Regions from separate parts of the Homo sapiens genome. Here region 2 is linked to region 1. A link means that fine-mapping ties the variant in region 1 to the expression of a gene that starts in the linked region. Tissue or cell type: whole blood. Region 1 holds a variant in brackets; the other region holds the start of a gene. All regions are shown on one strand. Distances are from middle to middle.

What was found. PIP is the estimated chance that this variant, and not a neighbour inherited with it, causes the effect.
Region 2: HOXA4 starts here. The variant in region 1 is fine-mapped to the expression of HOXA4 in whole blood (TOPMed, PIP above 0.99).

What each region holds. Positions count from the first base shown.
Region 1 is chr7:27,206,910-27,215,009 of GRCh38, reverse strand. It overlaps HOTTIP (HOXA distal transcript antisense RNA), which reads right to left. Exons shown (of 3, transcript NR_037843.3): 3 at 7,751-8,100. Among named protein-coding and RNA genes, the nearest start is that of HOTTIP, 11 kb to the right of the region's middle. RefSeq lists enhancers at 608-1,356, 1,357-2,106, 3,662-4,162, 4,163-4,663. The variant G/C (reference allele first, on the strand shown) is at 4,780.
Region 2 is chr7:27,126,994-27,135,080 of GRCh38, reverse strand. It overlaps HOXA4 (homeobox A4), which reads left to right and starts at 4,324. Exons shown (of 2, transcript NM_002141.5): 1 at 4,324-4,963; 2 at 5,510-6,556. The coding sequence starts at 4,348. The coding sequence ends at 5,856. HOXA3 (homeobox A3) reads left to right here. Exons shown (of 6, transcript NM_153631.3): 3 at 8,011-8,087. It overlaps HOXA-AS2 (HOXA cluster antisense RNA 2), which reads right to left. Exons shown (of 4, transcript NR_122069.1): 4 at 6,321-6,881. RefSeq lists a silencer at 4,097-4,166.

The DNA of each region.
Region 1 (8,100 bases):
GAAATCTGAACCAAGTGTGAGACCTGTCCTTAAACTTCCCAGTCTCTCTGGCCCATCCAGGTAGGGCCTCAGAGCAAAGCCACTTGCTCCTGGAGGCCTGAGTCTCTGGAAAGGTGGCAGAGAGAAAGGCAGACACAGGGGGTAGGAAAGAACAAGAGGTAGGAACCTGAAAGCTTTAGTCTGCACCTCCTGCCAGGGTCTTGCTGTTCCCAAACGTCTAGTTGCTGCATAACTAACCACCCCCCTCCAAGTCTGGGGGGCCTGGGAAACTTTGTTATGCAGAGGCACTCAAAGCATGGGGTTTACTTTGGGGCTGCAGCCACCCAGGAATCCTACTAGCCTCTTCCTCTCCTTTTCCCTTTGTAGCTACAGCTTGCACCTTCACGGGGGAGATTGGGAGTGCAAATTTCAGGGAACTACCCCCACCACTGGTGGATCTGAGGGCCCCAGACCCTAAGCCCCAGTAAATGTAGCCCAGAGGGATTCTCTTTAGATGATTCATTTGGAGCAGGAACAAATCACGTCTAGTGGGTTTTGTTTTTCCTCTCTGTGTGAGCGTTTCCCTCCCTGGGGTTTCATCATCCTCCCAGATCTTTCCATGTCCCCCTGTTCTCCATGCCCTGGGGCTGCAGCAGCGCTGCCAGGCCCCAGAAAATGCACCCTGGATCCCACACAAGTTTTTTTTTAAATGTGTCCCACACTACTCCTCGAGCGCCCAGTAGTTTGGTTTGGTTTTGTTTTAAATCATTGGCCTAAAACGAGTCTTAAAATCCAGTCTTTTTCTAAAGAGAAACGAGAGGACACAGGCCCGCGTTGCGCTGAGGGTCCCGGCAATGACTCCGGTGGGGTGCCTGCCCGCTTCCCGCAGAGAAGCCCTCGGGCAGGCGCCGGCAGCATCCTCTCCCCTGCGTCTCGAGGGCCGCCCTTGAGGAGTTTCATGCCCAGGGTCGCGGAACCAGTGGCTCCCCAGGCTGTCACCCGGGGTGAGCGCCTGCACCACTCTGCGGCCTTGTTGATTTTGTCCTAAAAGCCTGAGCGAAATGGAAATATGGGGGGCAGGGGTCTGCTGTTGGCTTGTGAATGCTCGCCTTTGTCCCTCAGGCGGTCGGCCACCAGCCTGGCATTCTGTCCCTGCACTGGTCACTCTCATTTGGCAGGCGGGGCCGCAGACTACATAGAGGAAGTGTGCCGCGAGTGGGGTTAGGTGCCAGCACGAGGCCTTACAAGGTTCCCGGATAGCCCTGGCGCACGCCTTGGCCATCATAGAGGAGGGAGGGGGACCTGACAGGGCGCGGACGTGCCGGCCCGAGGGTGGAGGCGGGGGTCCCCCATCCCAGCTGTTCTCCTGGCCCTGCAGCACCCGGGACCCGAAATAGCAAGTTCACCCTGGGTCACACTTGCGAGAACCAACCCGCACCCCACCCCAGAAAGGGCTCAGTCCGCACCTTTCGAGAACTGCTCGCGGGCCCAGGGAGTCGGCCTAGCGGTCACATTTCAACCTGGAGCAGCTTCGGAGGAGTTGAGTCTGGGGAGCAGGGGAGAGCGACCTGATTGGAAGGAGGGTGCCGAAGAGCCCTGGACAGCGGGAGTGCCCGACCCTGCCCAAGAAGGGGCCTGCCCGCGGCCGCGAGGGCTCCGGGCCACCAGCCTCAGCTGCCACCCAGTGCCTGGCCAAGACGCAGGGCCCGGCCTCCGAGGGCCGCGGGCACCGGGGACCTGCGTAGGCCTCTCCGCTGCGCTCCTCTGCGGGGCGCCCTCTCCCTGGCGCGCCTCTGAACCTGGCATCGAAGCCGCCCGATAGATACTTCGAACAATCCGGGAGAGAAAGAAAAAGAACTCAGTTTGCCCGCGTAAACGCTGCTAGTAACTCTCAGAAGTTTCCTGGTTTCTCGTAAAGGTGGCCGGGGCCGTTTACAGTAAGAACGGAATAATGTTTGCGACTGTACGACATAATTATCTCCAGACTTGCCTCTACCCCGCCCCCAGCTAGGGTTTTCACCAGCGAAAGCGGCTAATGCATTTGCACACATTAAACATCTTGAACGCATAATTACAGGCTGCAGACAGGCTGGACAATAAAATATCTCGGCTCGATATTTTTGGAAGCCTTTTGTGATGGTGCCTGGAATAAATAACAACCGCTTTCTATGTCCTCAGCCATCTAACTGCAGCCACCGTTATTTCAGAACACCCCCACCCCACCTCGGAGGGGCAGAAGTGGGGGACTTCAGCGGAAGGGTGCGGTCGCCTGAAGAGGTCTCCTGAGCCTCGGGTGCGTGTGGGCTTGGAGGACTGGAATAAGAAGAAAATATGTTCCAAGCCCTGAGGGCCCTCTTCCTCATTAGAGGCACACAAGTGGGGCCCTCTAGGCCCCACACCCTCTGGGCGCGTGCCCTCCCTGACTCCCTACGCCAAGACTAAAAAATTTGAAGACTCAGACCACATGTTCCTACCTCACAATCTCTCTAAAAAGAGCCTCTCTATACTGAACCGGCTCCTGTCACCTGAGAAATCTGCTGGAAAAGAAAGCTGGATATTGAAGCAGCAAGACCCAGAGGAAGAAGCTGCTGGTTAGTCTCTGGCTGGTTATTTTCTTCCACAGATGCCTGGGACCCTAGCTTCCCTTGAGTCTTAGTTGCTTTGTCTGTAAAATGGAGATGATTGTAATAACCTTGGGACCAACCTCACAGGTTGTTAGGAGGAAGCACTTAAAAATTTTTTTATTGCCATATAACTTACGTATAGCAAAGCATACAAATCTTAAGCCCCCAGTTCACTGAATTTTTATATATGTATACATTTGTGTAACTACTACAAAGATCAAGATAAAGAGTATTAGCAGCCCCCAGAAGGCCATGAAGAAGCACTATGAGAACTAATTTTAGACAGTGATAGTGTTATCTCTAAGTCAAGAGATCAACAGGTCAGTCTAGTATGTGGCCCTTGAAGACACTTGATAGTGTCTTCAAGACAAGAATTGACAAACCAAATATACATGTCAAGGGGCTGTGGGAATCTCTGGTCTGGAGGAGCATTTGTGGGCCTTTTCTGCAAACCCCTAGGCACTCAGGGATTGGGGGAAAATTGAAGATCAGGCTTTAATTCGTTTTGAGACAACGCATTCTCTTTTGTGAATGGCTGGGGCTGGCATGTTCATTTACAAGTTAGGGGTAAGCCCAGAGAGAGAGGCCTGAGAACCTCTCCCAGGGGATGGAAATCTGAGTTGATGTCCGTAAGACTAAGATTCAAGCCTTGGGGTAACTTATTTCAGTGTTCTCCCCTGAATCCAAGGCTGGTATGATGTGTGGAGGAAATTCCCCAAAGGAATATGTGGCCATGAGATACATAGGGTAACCAGTTTTCTGAAAAGTATAACCTCAATAGCTAATACATACAATTGGTGCACTTCACAAACACTACAAAAAGATTTTATAGAAAAAAAATTCTCTACTCAGATCCTCTGAACACCAGTTCTTCCCAGGGGAAGCACTGTTACTGATGACTTGTCTGTCCTTCTAGCCCTTTTGTACATTCCTTCTTTTTTAAAAGCACAGTGGTAAGCTCTCACTACATATGCTGCCCTGTTCTTGGAGCTTTTCCTAAATACTGCCCATGACAATTCTCCATGACAGGTATACTGGCTCAGAAAGATATGCTCATCCCAGATAAAATTGAAGCCAACCTTGTCTAGCCTGACACACAGAAGGGCTGCTTTAGCCTGGGTTCTAGATCCTGGCCCACAGTTAATGGGTTTGGTGACCTTAAAAACAGTCAGCTAACTTGGCCGCAACATCATTACCAGCACCCCCTTTCTCCCTAGGGGAGCAGAGCCATGGGGAGGAGGCAATAAGGCACTGACCATGACTAGACCTTCAACCAGTTTCTGGAGTCAGGGGAAATTGAAAGTGCTTCTTGGAATTTTTAACTATTCTGTCTAGCAGCTATAAAAACTGTGCTCAGGTCATTAGCCCACCCTGAGTGTCTACCTCCGATCCCATTTCCTTAGTCCTCTTTGGAGCTCGATGGGGTGGCCCTGGGCCTGGCCCCCACCCAGGCCTGACAGAGGCAGGAGGGTATGGCGGGGGCCTAGGGCTTTGCCCCAGACCTTGGACCCCGCAGCGTCTGCCAGGAGACGTCGGAGGAAACGCTTTTACCACCTGGGCGACCTTGACTGCAGCCGATTAAAGTTTAATCCGAGGTGTGTGCTCAGACTTGCCATGTTATTTAAACACATCAAAGGTCATAAAAAGATTCCAATGGCGTGAGCCGCTCCGACGCGGGCCCGCAGGGAGCCAGCATTTGATTCTGGTGGATTTCCAGAGCCAGGATTTAGAGCGCAGGGCGGGAAGGGGAGTATAGGAAAAAAAGGGAAAAGCCAGCTTTCACAGAGGAATGCTAGACTTCAAAAAGCGGCAGGGGAAACCGAGTCTCGGCCCGAGGAGCAGAGACAGCGCCCTTGAGTTCCGATTAACTGGGAAGACATCTAGTGGGAAGAGGTCGCAACTGCAGCGGTGTCCTGCGAGCATCCTCCGCCGCCGCCCACAGCGACTGCAACCTCCTGGATTGGATGGGGGTGGGAGGCCTCAAAGAGAAGCCTCTCTCTCCCTGGCCTCCCCGTCGACAGTGGAGTGCTTACTTTATTGCCTGCGTGATTGCAGGGCTGGGTCTGGGTTCCCACCCAGGGCAGAGACGCTATTTCCACCTTGACAAGAAAGATCTAGCTGTCCACCGAAAGCACAGGGCCCAGGATGCCTGGATTCCCATCTAACTCTTCCTGGG[G/C]CTCCTGATCCTAATGCGGGCAAATCCCTGGAGCGCCCATATGTAGGTTCTCCTGGAGGGTGCAGAGTGGCTCTGGGGACCAACAGATTGCTGCAGAAGTTAAGTGAGTCCAGAGGCTGGCATGCAAAACCGCTGGAGCTACAGACTGCTGCCCACGAGGCCTTTGGCAAAGCACAGGAGCCTAGCTTCTTAGGATTCGAAGGTGACATTTTCCCCATCTCTGCCGTGGGGCCATCTGGCCAGATCTGATCCTGGCTGCCTTCTTGCATCCAGATTCTAATTTCTGTGAAGGATTGGCCTCTCTCACAACCCCATGGAAATGAGCCCCACATATAGAGAGCTGGCTCTTATCTGAGCTCCTCTGGCCCCACCAGCACCTCCTAACCTTATGGCCAAAAGATAGAGAATTCTGTGCAGGCCTCTCCATGTGCCTCTGAGATGCTCACTGCAGGTTCTCTATTGGGTGCCTTCGCCTGCTTCAAATGGGGTCCGCCTTGTAGGGGTGTGCCTCCTTGCTGACCACTTTGGCTGAGTCTGAGTCTGAGTTCTCTCCTTCAGTCTTTTTTTTTTTTTTTTTTTTTTTTGAGACAGGGTCTCACTCTTTCGCCCAGGCTGGAACATAGTGGTACTATCATGGCTCACTGCAGCCTCAACTTGCTGGGGATCAAGCAATCCTCCCACCTCAGCCTCCCCAGTAGCTGGGACCACAGGCACATGCTACCACACCTGGCTAATTTTTGTGTTTTTTAAAGAGACTGGGTTTCTCCATGTTGCCCAGGCTCTCTCAGTCTATTAGTTGTGGCATTAGATCATCCTAGAATTGTCAGGAAGAGTGGCACCAGTATACTCCTTTTGGGAATGATATAGAAGGCCAAGGAACCATGCTCCACATTTCAATGTATGAATCCCAGGACATTGTGGAGCCCCCACAGGCAGCTCTACCGATAGAGTTTCCAGGGCTTCTGTAGGAGGCCCCCCACCCTGTCATGCTCAAGTCTCTGGGACCTAGCATCGGCCAGGCCTCTGGGAAGCGGCCTCTTCCTTTTCCATTTTACCCATCAAGTTGCCTACCCATACTCCTCCAGGGTTCGCACTCTCCCTGATTCTCAAATGAAGGCTTAAGGGACCCTGTTCTTTGGCTTTGTTACACAACCCCCTACAACCCCCACCCCCCTTGAAAAAATGGAAGAACTGGAAATAGTGGAAGAGGCCATTCTAGCAAATGCCTTGAAGCCCTTCACTGAGACATTAGCCGTCTCTTATCACTCACAGAAGTGTTTCCCCAAAGGGGTACAAGGGCTATGACTCCTTCTGTGCTCCCACCAATCACCTAATGGCTGGATAAACCTCAGGTAGGAAGACTCCGTTGTTTTATTTAATCAGCTACAGACTATTAAAGTAGCAGTGGGTAAGGGCTAGGGGAAGAAAGGACTGCAGGTGGGCTAACCAGATTTAGCTTCAGAAAAACTGAGACCCAGATCATGTCACAAGTGAACCTGGGATCCAAGGGCCTGGATCAGTCCAGGTCACATGCTGAGTTCCAATGGGCTGCTGTGTGAGCTTGGAGCAGAGCTGATCCCTTAATCCTCTCAACCTGAGACAGACAAACATACACACACACACACACACACACACACACACACACACACACACACGATCCAGAAAGTCCCCTCCCAGCTCACCTGGTTAGGCCCACACTGGACCCCTGTCTGGATTCCACACCCCCAGCCAAGCAACCCTGCTCTGCTCCCAGCAGAAATCACAGGGACTTCTATTCCTCAGGGTGACAAACGAGTCTGCTTGCTCTTGGTGACATCAAATTACTTTGCACCAGCCTAGGGTCCCATGACCTGACATAACCTCACATTAGATCCTAGAAATGTAAAGAAATATGGCCTTTTAAAAGTGGCTGAGAGCAGGTAATTGCTAGCAGGCTTGAAGGGTTGTCCCAAGCTCAGCTCGCGACCTCTGCCTCCGAAGCTGATACCAGCAGGAATTCATGCGTTTGGACTCTCTATGGGCAGAAGGTCGAGCCTGCATTTAACTCTGGACAATAATCAGGTTCTTAAAGCCCAGATTGTTTTTGTGCAGTTACAGAAATCACAGGGAGGCTTTGGACCTAAATGGCAAGGAACACTCGACAGTGGCACCGCCCCCACTGCCCCCCAGCCAGGCTTCCACAAAGAACAGGCTTCAGCGGAGAATGGGCTTCTGCTAAGCTTTAAAAACAGGCCTTCTTTGAGCTGCTGTAGCTTAAATTTTTGTGGAGAATTACAGTTTCATTGCTTCTTATTCTTCTCCCTCCCATCTCTCCCTTCCTCTTTGTCTCCTGGCTTGTCTGTGGCTTCTCTCTTCCCCTCTCCCTCTTCCTCCGAATTGTTTGACTTCTGCAGTCCCCACCCTTACCCTGACCCGAGCCCTCACCCCTGCGGTGAACTCCATCTTAGGATCTGGAGACATGGGACCCTTAAACCCACCACTGTGCCCAAGGCTTGGTAGGAGTCAATCTTGCTGATACCCCACAGACAGTGGGCAGAGAGCTCATGGCTTCTGCAACATATAGTTGGAGTCGTTCGAGATTATTGTAAAATATGTACACACACTTTCTTCTCTTTTTTAATTTACATACCCCTTATGAGTTTCATCAAATAGCTCTTTTCTAATACCATGAGAATTTATATGCTTAGTGTAAAAGCATCCCAGATATTTAATCACTACTCAAAAAAATTAATTAAGAAACCATAAACAACCCAAATACAAAATACTGCCATAGAAAAGATGATCAGTATCCACTCAGACAAGTGGGGTTAGAATTTATTAAGCAGCCGGGTAGTGTAAAAGTTGTCAAATTCAACCGTGTGCTATTTTCTGTTTTTACCTTTTTGCTTTCTGAAGTTGCCAAGCCTTTCAGTTAAGTCACTTTCAGAGTTCGACAGGGAGAATCATGCTCGTTGTAAATGAGACTACCAGATTAAAACAAAAGAAACCAGAACATCTTTATTCATTCTTTTTTAAAAATAATCCCTTATTGCTAGGGGGATATTTTCAACGCATGGCATTGAATTTCTTCCTGAAAACTGCGGTTGCTCTGATAAGCCATCAATTCAGTGCAAACTTTCCTAGTTTAATCATTAGAAATTTCTTTTGTGTTTCTACCAGGGGAGAAGTTGTGCTGAAATGAAATATAGTCATTTACCCACTAATAAGTGAATATGTGTTAATTTAGGACACACTAAGGACTGAGGTATGTTTTTTGTGTTCCTCCATAATTCTGATGCAGCAATAGAAATTTTCTATTAAAGGACGATTCTCTCATATAAA
Region 2 (8,087 bases), 80 kb after region 1:
AGTTGCAACTGAAGAGCTAAACAATATTTTATTTTTCATGCATCTAGAATGGCTTTAAGTGTTGGTGCTGTAAGAATCTATTTTCCAGAGGACATATTTCCCTTTTCTATGAATTGACCTTCAAGGGATCAGTATAGGAAAACAGAGAAGAGAAAAGTGAAATATTTTCCCTAGGTTTTTCTTTTTTAACTTTGGAAATAATTCATCTACTCAGAATGTGGACTCTTGCAGGAATGTTTAAGATCATCCCAATATTTTGGTTGATTGGATTTAATGGTGCCAGGTATGTTCAGTGGTAAAGTAAATATTTTCCAAACACTGCCTTCATGGAAGTAATCAGGGTGCTTCTGTGCAATGTGTAAAGTTTTCACTCTGGCCAAGAGCTTGAAGCCAAATGGGGGTTTGCCAGATGAAACAGAAGAAAGGAAACAACTGTGGTGATTGCTGTTGCAGCAGTGAACATTTCACCACATTTGGGCTAGTGAAATGAGGAAAACTGAAACCCCTCGATGAGTCAACAAGACAATTACGTGTCTCTTTGGGAAAAACCTTTTTATTGTGCTTTTTGGTTAAAAACATGTGACACACCTTATAGACATGTCAGCTTCAAAAACCATAGATACCTCTTAGCTAGTCTTCAAAGTAAAAGAAAAGAGTACTTGCAGAATTTATTGCTTTTAGTGTGCTTGCTTTATCTGGAGGATTTTGAACCTCAGGCCTCTCAAACAATCCCAGTTAAAATTCATGTGTAATCCCAATATGAATATCAGTCCTCATCCCTGCGTTGTGTGCATTATTTTAAACTACTACAAGAAAATTATCCCCAAAGAATTAATTGGTCAAATGGCTGGTAAAGTGTTGTTCCTCTCAAATCTTGTGTCTAGTGTAGGTGGTGGGGAAGCCTTCAAATGCCACCATCAGGCGTTTTGAAATTCTGCCATTCCACTGTTCAGCTCTAGAGACATGCATCAGATAGAGAACAGTCTGGGGGACTCTCGCTCTAAAGAACAAAGGACAAATACAGTCAATACATTCCATAACGTTTACATTTCCTTTGGCTTTTCCCCTTGGTTTTTCCTGAGAAGGAGTGACCTGGGCAAAGCACCCTGCTCTCTAAAAGACACTGTATAGACCTTTTAGAAGCGCAAAGTCCAAGGCCGAGGTGAACTTCAGGTCAGTGCGTCTAACAAATATGAAAATGTCGGCTAGTGAAGGGCGCGCCTTGTGATTTAACAAAGACTGTCAATGTGTAAGATTAATAAGAAACAAAATGCACACGGTGTCACTGTTCGGTCACTTTGAAACTTGGGACAGGGTTGCATTCAAGAGGGAATGCTGTTACAAATATATTCAAAATGATTCAAATCAGATTCAAACCAAGCTGCAAAACATTGCCTCCCTTGCACCCTCCCTCTCCCTCCGACTCCCTTCACTCTTCTCCATCTGGGATTCGAGGACATGATGAAAAGTTATTTCACCTAATGGGATTTTAAGAAAGCTTTTGTTGGGAATATATGTTATCCCTGCACGTGGAAATGAGCAAACGTGCTCACCAGTTTCCTAAGGAAAGGATAACGCTTTCACCCCGCTTGGGACTGGAGCCAGTTGGTGTGTGAGGATTAGCATGCTCCCTCTCTGCTACATTTCAGGGCATCCCATCTTTTCTCAGGCGAGATGCTGCTGGTAAACTTCAGTTTGTTTATTAATTGAGTTAGTTTCTTCCTGGCTTTACTTTGGTGTCTTGGATATTGTGTAAAGGCAAGAGGTATTTTTTTTAAATGTTTTTCAAAAGATTATTTGATTCAATGGAATGATGCTATGGTTTGCAAAGGGAGATTGAGGAAGGTTCAGAAAAGGTACTGAGATTGTTTATTACAGCCATAAATCTTGCAGTAAAATGTCAAAATGTCGGTGTTGAGATAACACTTGGTGGTCCTGGCTCCGTTTGTGTTTATGATACGAACCACAAAGACAAGTTACAGGCCTTGGGGGATTCTGTGTAAGGCCATCTTCCTAAAGTAATAGAATCACACAAAACACAGGCACAGCTAACTCGTTTGGGTTAACCGTATACAAAACAGTGTTTATGTCTCGTTAATACTTAAAAATAGAAACTTGGTACAAGGTTCTGAGGCTAAACAACAGAATTTTGTGTTTTAGTGTCTGTAAATATTAAACAGATATGGTTAAGACCCTAGTACTCAAGGCTGATGACATGAGAAGGAGGGAAGATTTCCTTGTCATGCTTTTTGTCCCCCTGAAACTTATAGGGTTCAGATTTGTAATACGTATGTCTATATATTATTTATATTACATTTTATATAACCTATGTGTATATTATTTTTTCTTGCTAGGGAGAGATATTGGTTCAGGTAGATGTATCACATTCTAAATTTTTCCTCCAGTCTAGAGAGGATGGCTAAAGATTACACTCAGTGTTGATTTCTGTCTGTGGCTCAAATTTCTTTAAAAACAAATTTTCAGGGTGCCTCATGTGAATGGACAGCACTCTTCACACTCATATACACCTAACGTGGAAAATCTCTTTGTACCTCTTCAGGGTGATTCCAGTTAGAAAGCTAATATGATCCCCTTTTTAACCTCTTTTCCTAAATTAGTTTAAAGATTAGTCCCATATAATAGGCTTTATGTGGCTAAGCATTAAGTGACTATCCATCAAATGGATATATTCCAGCATTTAGTAACTCATATGAGTAACCAGTATGAATGAAGATAGAATTGACATTCCTTTTCAAGTGTCTCCAGGCTTAGGAAATAATTTTCCTTGTCTGCGTTCCAGACTCAGTTGTGAGAAGGCTGTTTATACTGCTCTTTGAAAAATCAACTAAGGTGCACCAGCTGAAAAATCCTTGCTTTTGCATGCCAATATGAAAATATTTTTAGAATGGTGACTATGCTAGTTTACACTGCTTTAATTTAGGCTGAAAAGTAGAGGATCTAGATATGTCTACTACTCAGAAAAGAAAGGGAGAAAGCACACAGCACAAATAAGGCATCAGTATTTACTTCAAAGATCAACATTAGGTGGAATTAATAAGTAATTTATTTGTTAATAATGGCGTAATTAGTGTACCCATCAAATTTCAATTACCAAATAGCAGGCAACAGTCTCCTCTCCCTCCTTTCCGGAGCTTCTGATATCGTTAATACGCTAATTTTCAGCAATTCAGAAATTATAGACTGTCCTGCAAATATAACTCTAGCCTCAGATACTGCCTGAGAAAGCAGGATCTAAAAGAGAAAACATGAAATTCTTAGCTGGAAAAGACCCATCAGCGATCAGACCCGGCAAGGTGTTTATTCTACCCTTAGCTTGTTTTTGTTTGGGGATAGTTCTGAAATAGGAAGTTATTGTTTTCAAAGCTCGGTTCTGTGGAGGTGTTGCTTCTATCCATTCCCATCCTTGGGCCACCTTCTCTCTCACAATCGCACCTAGTAAATGCGGGCATATTTAGCTCTCACATCGACAACCCCCGTCAAATTAGATGCTATTACGAAGGTTCCAATTTTTCTTAGGAAAACACGAAACAGATTGTCTCTGAAAGAAGGAAAAAATGAAAAGTGTCCATCCAGTTATAATGGAATGGCCTCGATTTACATCCTTGGGTCGATTTCTCTTAGCTGCCCGCCCACCCTTTGCAGCTTCTGCCAAGCTTCTCAAAGCAAGGGCTCTCAGGCTGACACGCAAGGAGCAGGGTGTGGGGAAGGGGGATCTGCGGTTGAGAAAATGTGTCTGGTGGCCTCTCAGTGGCGTACATAAAAACCAGGATGCCCCTCGGTCCCAACGCCCTTCCTTTCGCCTGTTAGCCTAGAACCCCTGAAGGACACGAAGCCTGACTGGGTTGCGCCCGAGGTCAGCGCTGAGTCGCGGCCGCCAGACAGCCCGAGGCCTAGGCCAGCAGTAGGGCAGGCAGAGGGCTCCCGAGAGGACCTACAGCCTGACAGGGCCTGAATTCCCAGCGGGAACCAAAGCTGGGGGGCTGGGGTCCAAAGCTCCTGCTCCCTCCCCCAGCCCAGGGGCCGGACAGCAGCATCCATCACGCACCCGCGCGTTTCCTGATCCGGGTCCGCGCGCGCGGTGCGCCCATTGGTGGGGGCGCTGCACGTGGGGCACGGGGCGGGGCGCGCGCTGGGCTGGGGAGGAGCGGCTCGAACTTTGGTGGCGGCGTCTGCGGGAGGGGGAGGAGTGGGCACTTGACAGCGGGGGGAGGGGAAGGGCGCAGAGGAAAGGGGGATGGGAAGCGAGGCAGGAGGGGGAGGGGCCTCGGCAAGCCCAGAAAAAACGACAACGCGAGAAAAATTAGTATTTTTGCACTTCACAAATTAATGACCATGAGCTCGTTTTTGATAAACTCCAACTACATCGAGCCCAAGTTCCCTCCCTTCGAGGAGTACGCGCAGCACAGCGGCTCGGGCGGCGCAGACGGCGGCCCGGGCGGGGGCCCCGGCTACCAGCAGCCCCCAGCGCCCCCGACCCAGCACCTGCCGCTGCAGCAGCCCCAGCTCCCTCACGCGGGCGGCGGCCGAGAGCCCACTGCCTCCTACTACGCGCCGCGGACCGCCCGCGAGCCCGCCTACCCTGCTGCCGCGCTGTACCCCGCGCATGGGGCCGCGGACACCGCCTACCCCTATGGCTACCGCGGCGGCGCCAGCCCCGGGCGGCCGCCCCAGCCCGAGCAGCCCCCGGCGCAAGCCAAGGGCCCAGCGCACGGCCTGCATGCGAGCCACGTCCTGCAGCCCCAGCTGCCGCCGCCCCTGCAGCCTCGCGCCGTGCCCCCAGCGGCCCCGCGGCGCTGCGAGGCGGCCCCCGCCACCCCAGGCGTCCCGGCAGGGGGCAGCGCCCCCGCGTGCCCGCTGCTCTTGGCCGACAAGAGCCCGCTGGGCCTGAAGGGCAAGGAGCCCGTGGTGTACCCCTGGATGAAGAAGATCCATGTCAGCGCCGGTACGTGGCGCCGCTTGGGAGGCGCGGGAGGTGGGCCGGGGCTGGGCCTGGGTTCGAGGGTCGGGGTCAGGAGGGAGAGGCTCAGGGGAAGGGGGCCTCGGGAGGGGAGCCCCCATCTGACCCGGGCTGCGGTGAGATGTGGGTATGTGCGCGCCAGCCAGCCGCCTGATCCCAACATGAGAACCCTTTTGTACCCAGGGTCCCTTTATCAGGAGATTTACGAGACGCCAAACTGTTAGGGCAGTAATTATAGCCCCCATAAATTTAATTGCCCTGGCAGAGGCTTCAGGCCATGTGTCTTTGAAGCTTTTCTTCAGCCCCAATGCCCAGCACCATTCTTTATGGCTCTCGGGTGTTTCCCGTTGTCAATAGCCTGTGAAACATTTTCTTTGCCGTTTTATGTATCTTGCGTGAACTTGGTGTCAGGTTATTATATAATGATGATGTCCAATTGCTCTTCCCCACCCCACCTTCTCTCTCCTCCTCCTTTCCCTCTCTTCCGCTCCCTCCTCCTTGGCCTTCTATTTCGGGGTTCTGGGTTTTCAGTTAACCCCAGTTATAACGGAGGGGAGCCTAAGCGCTCTCGAACCGCCTACACCCGGCAGCAGGTCTTGGAGCTGGAGAAGGAGTTCCACTTCAATCGATACCTGACCCGGCGGCGCCGCATCGAGATCGCCCACACGCTCTGTTTGTCTGAGCGCCAGGTCAAGATCTGGTTTCAGAACCGGAGGATGAAGTGGAAGAAAGACCACAAACTGCCCAACACCAAGATGCGATCCTCCAATTCGGCCTCGGCCTCTGCCGGCCCACCAGGGAAAGCACAAACTCAGAGCCCACACCTCCATCCCCACCCCCACCCGAGCACCTCCACACCCGTTCCCTCCTCCATATAATCTTCTAGAGATCTTAACCAGTTTCTATCCCTTACCTGCTTTTCTCTTCTCTTCTCCTGCTCCGTTCCTCATCCACCCCTCCCCATCTGGACCATAATAGACACCAAAACAAACCCAAATTGGTGAAAAGAATAATCAAAAAGAAGACATTATCCGGTTAAGAGTCTGTGCTGGTTGCCACCCAAGAGAGAACAGTTGTCCAGGATGCTGGCTGGTGGAACAACCTGCTGGCCCGAAACAAGGCTGCCAGGTGTGGATACCTGAGAAGGACTACTTGGTATCAAATACTTTTGAGATGGCTACAGTCAGCTAGCTGGACAGCCCATGCTGAGTGGGGACATACACTTGCATCTTTGTTGAAAGCAGAAGAAGACAGACCCTTTCCCCACCTTCCTTACCTCCTCTTCCCCCATTAAGGCAGCTCATCCAAGCTTGTATTTAACTGAATAAATGAGTAGACATTGTGGACCTCACAAGATTATTTAATTCTTAAGATGTGTAGACCTTGATGGTAGGTGTGACATGTTAGTTTTTCTTACTTGCATTTATTTAAGACACTGTTACAGAGATACTGTTGTCCCCTTCTGGGGCACGGTCTTTGGGGAGAGGGGAGTGCATTTAGACTTATGTGGAACTGTACAAATTGTGATGTGGCTACATAGAAAGCCATGTGCTAAGAATAAACTCCATTTAAAAAACATTAAAAATCTAAGATTCATGTGTTTTCTAAGCTTTTCATTAAGAAAACAAAAGTCCTCTGGATTGAGATACTTGACCTTGCATGTAAAAACCTTGTAGATAGCTTGAGCTGGATTCACTTGGATTCTGACGGCTCACATAATTTGTGTGTGAGAGTGTGTGTATGTATGTTCAACTTGAGCTGAACTCTTGTCAAGCTTGGCCTACTGTGGAAAAGTTCCAAAGAGTAGGAAGGCTCTTGAGCTCTGAGAGGGCTCCTCTTCTTCCCAAACTTGGCCAGGCTTTCAGGCTTCAAGTCTCTGTAAGGCATAGAAACGTGTCCTTCCCTGCAATGAAAGTTGAAACCATGCAGTGCTGTGGGCCCAGGAGTTTCTGCAGCTGTTCTACACACTGAACTCTGAGCACACTTGGAAAGAAGTGGTCTCTTTGGTATTTGGTATTTGTTGCACCTTCACACTTAATCTGCCTGTTTCCCAGGAGATAAAAAATAGTTTGTGCAAAGGGTTGAGATTAGTTTTTGTTTCCTGGCTGTTCTTAAGGTCCTCTTCACTAACTACAGACTGGGAATTTTTGTTTGTTTGCTTGTTTGTTTCTCTTTTTTGAAGAAAGAGCTTTCAAATAAACTGAATTTTACAAGTACACTCTCCAATGTCTCTTCTGAGGAAAAAGCATAATATACCCCTAAAGTTCACCCCATGCAAAGTAGACCTGGGAGAGTTTACTGCTGGAAAATAGCCAAACTGGGTCACTTTCCTCAAATGCTTTGTGAATTTTCTGCTCGATTCCAGAGATCTAGATCCAAAAGGCTGAAAATCAAAACCCACTTCTCGATCTCTATAACCCTAGTATTTGTTTACTGATTTAGATTTGATGCTTACTGCAGGGAGTTCCCTACAATAAGACCACAAAAACCTGTGCACACTAGCCCCAGAATATTAGAACTGTCACCTGGCCTTGAAAAAGTGCAACTTTTAAGTAATGTAGTAATTTTAGCATAGATGGGAGTAAGTGCTCACCTGCCTCTGCAATATCAGAGAATTTTTAAACACATTTCTCTCATTAGTGGCAAAACCCTTTAGCCAGTGTCAGAGCTGGTACCCCTTTCACCCCTGCTGCCCTGTGTGTGATACAAACAAGGGTGATCCGTTCTATACCTACAAATCAGATTTGAGAGGAAAGTGATAGATACCAGTCTCTGAAGAGCCAAGAAAATTCGGGAGCAATCAAATACACACTTACCTTCCCAAATCAGGATAAACCTGGCATAAAGTGCATTTTATAAGGTGTGAACGGGTGCCAGGGATTTCTGGAGGCAATGCAACTGCTGCTGAAACTTATTAACCCTCCCCCTACTACACACACTTGTAAAACAAAATTAAATCACGCTGAAAATAGCAATTTTCCCAGGAATCATTAATCACCTCAAACAATAAATACTTCTTTGTAATTCAACAGCAATTCTGAAAGGCATTCTCTGGGAAAAGTCTGTGGAGGAGAGAGGGATCTTCTTGCAAATAATGTGGTCTCAGGCA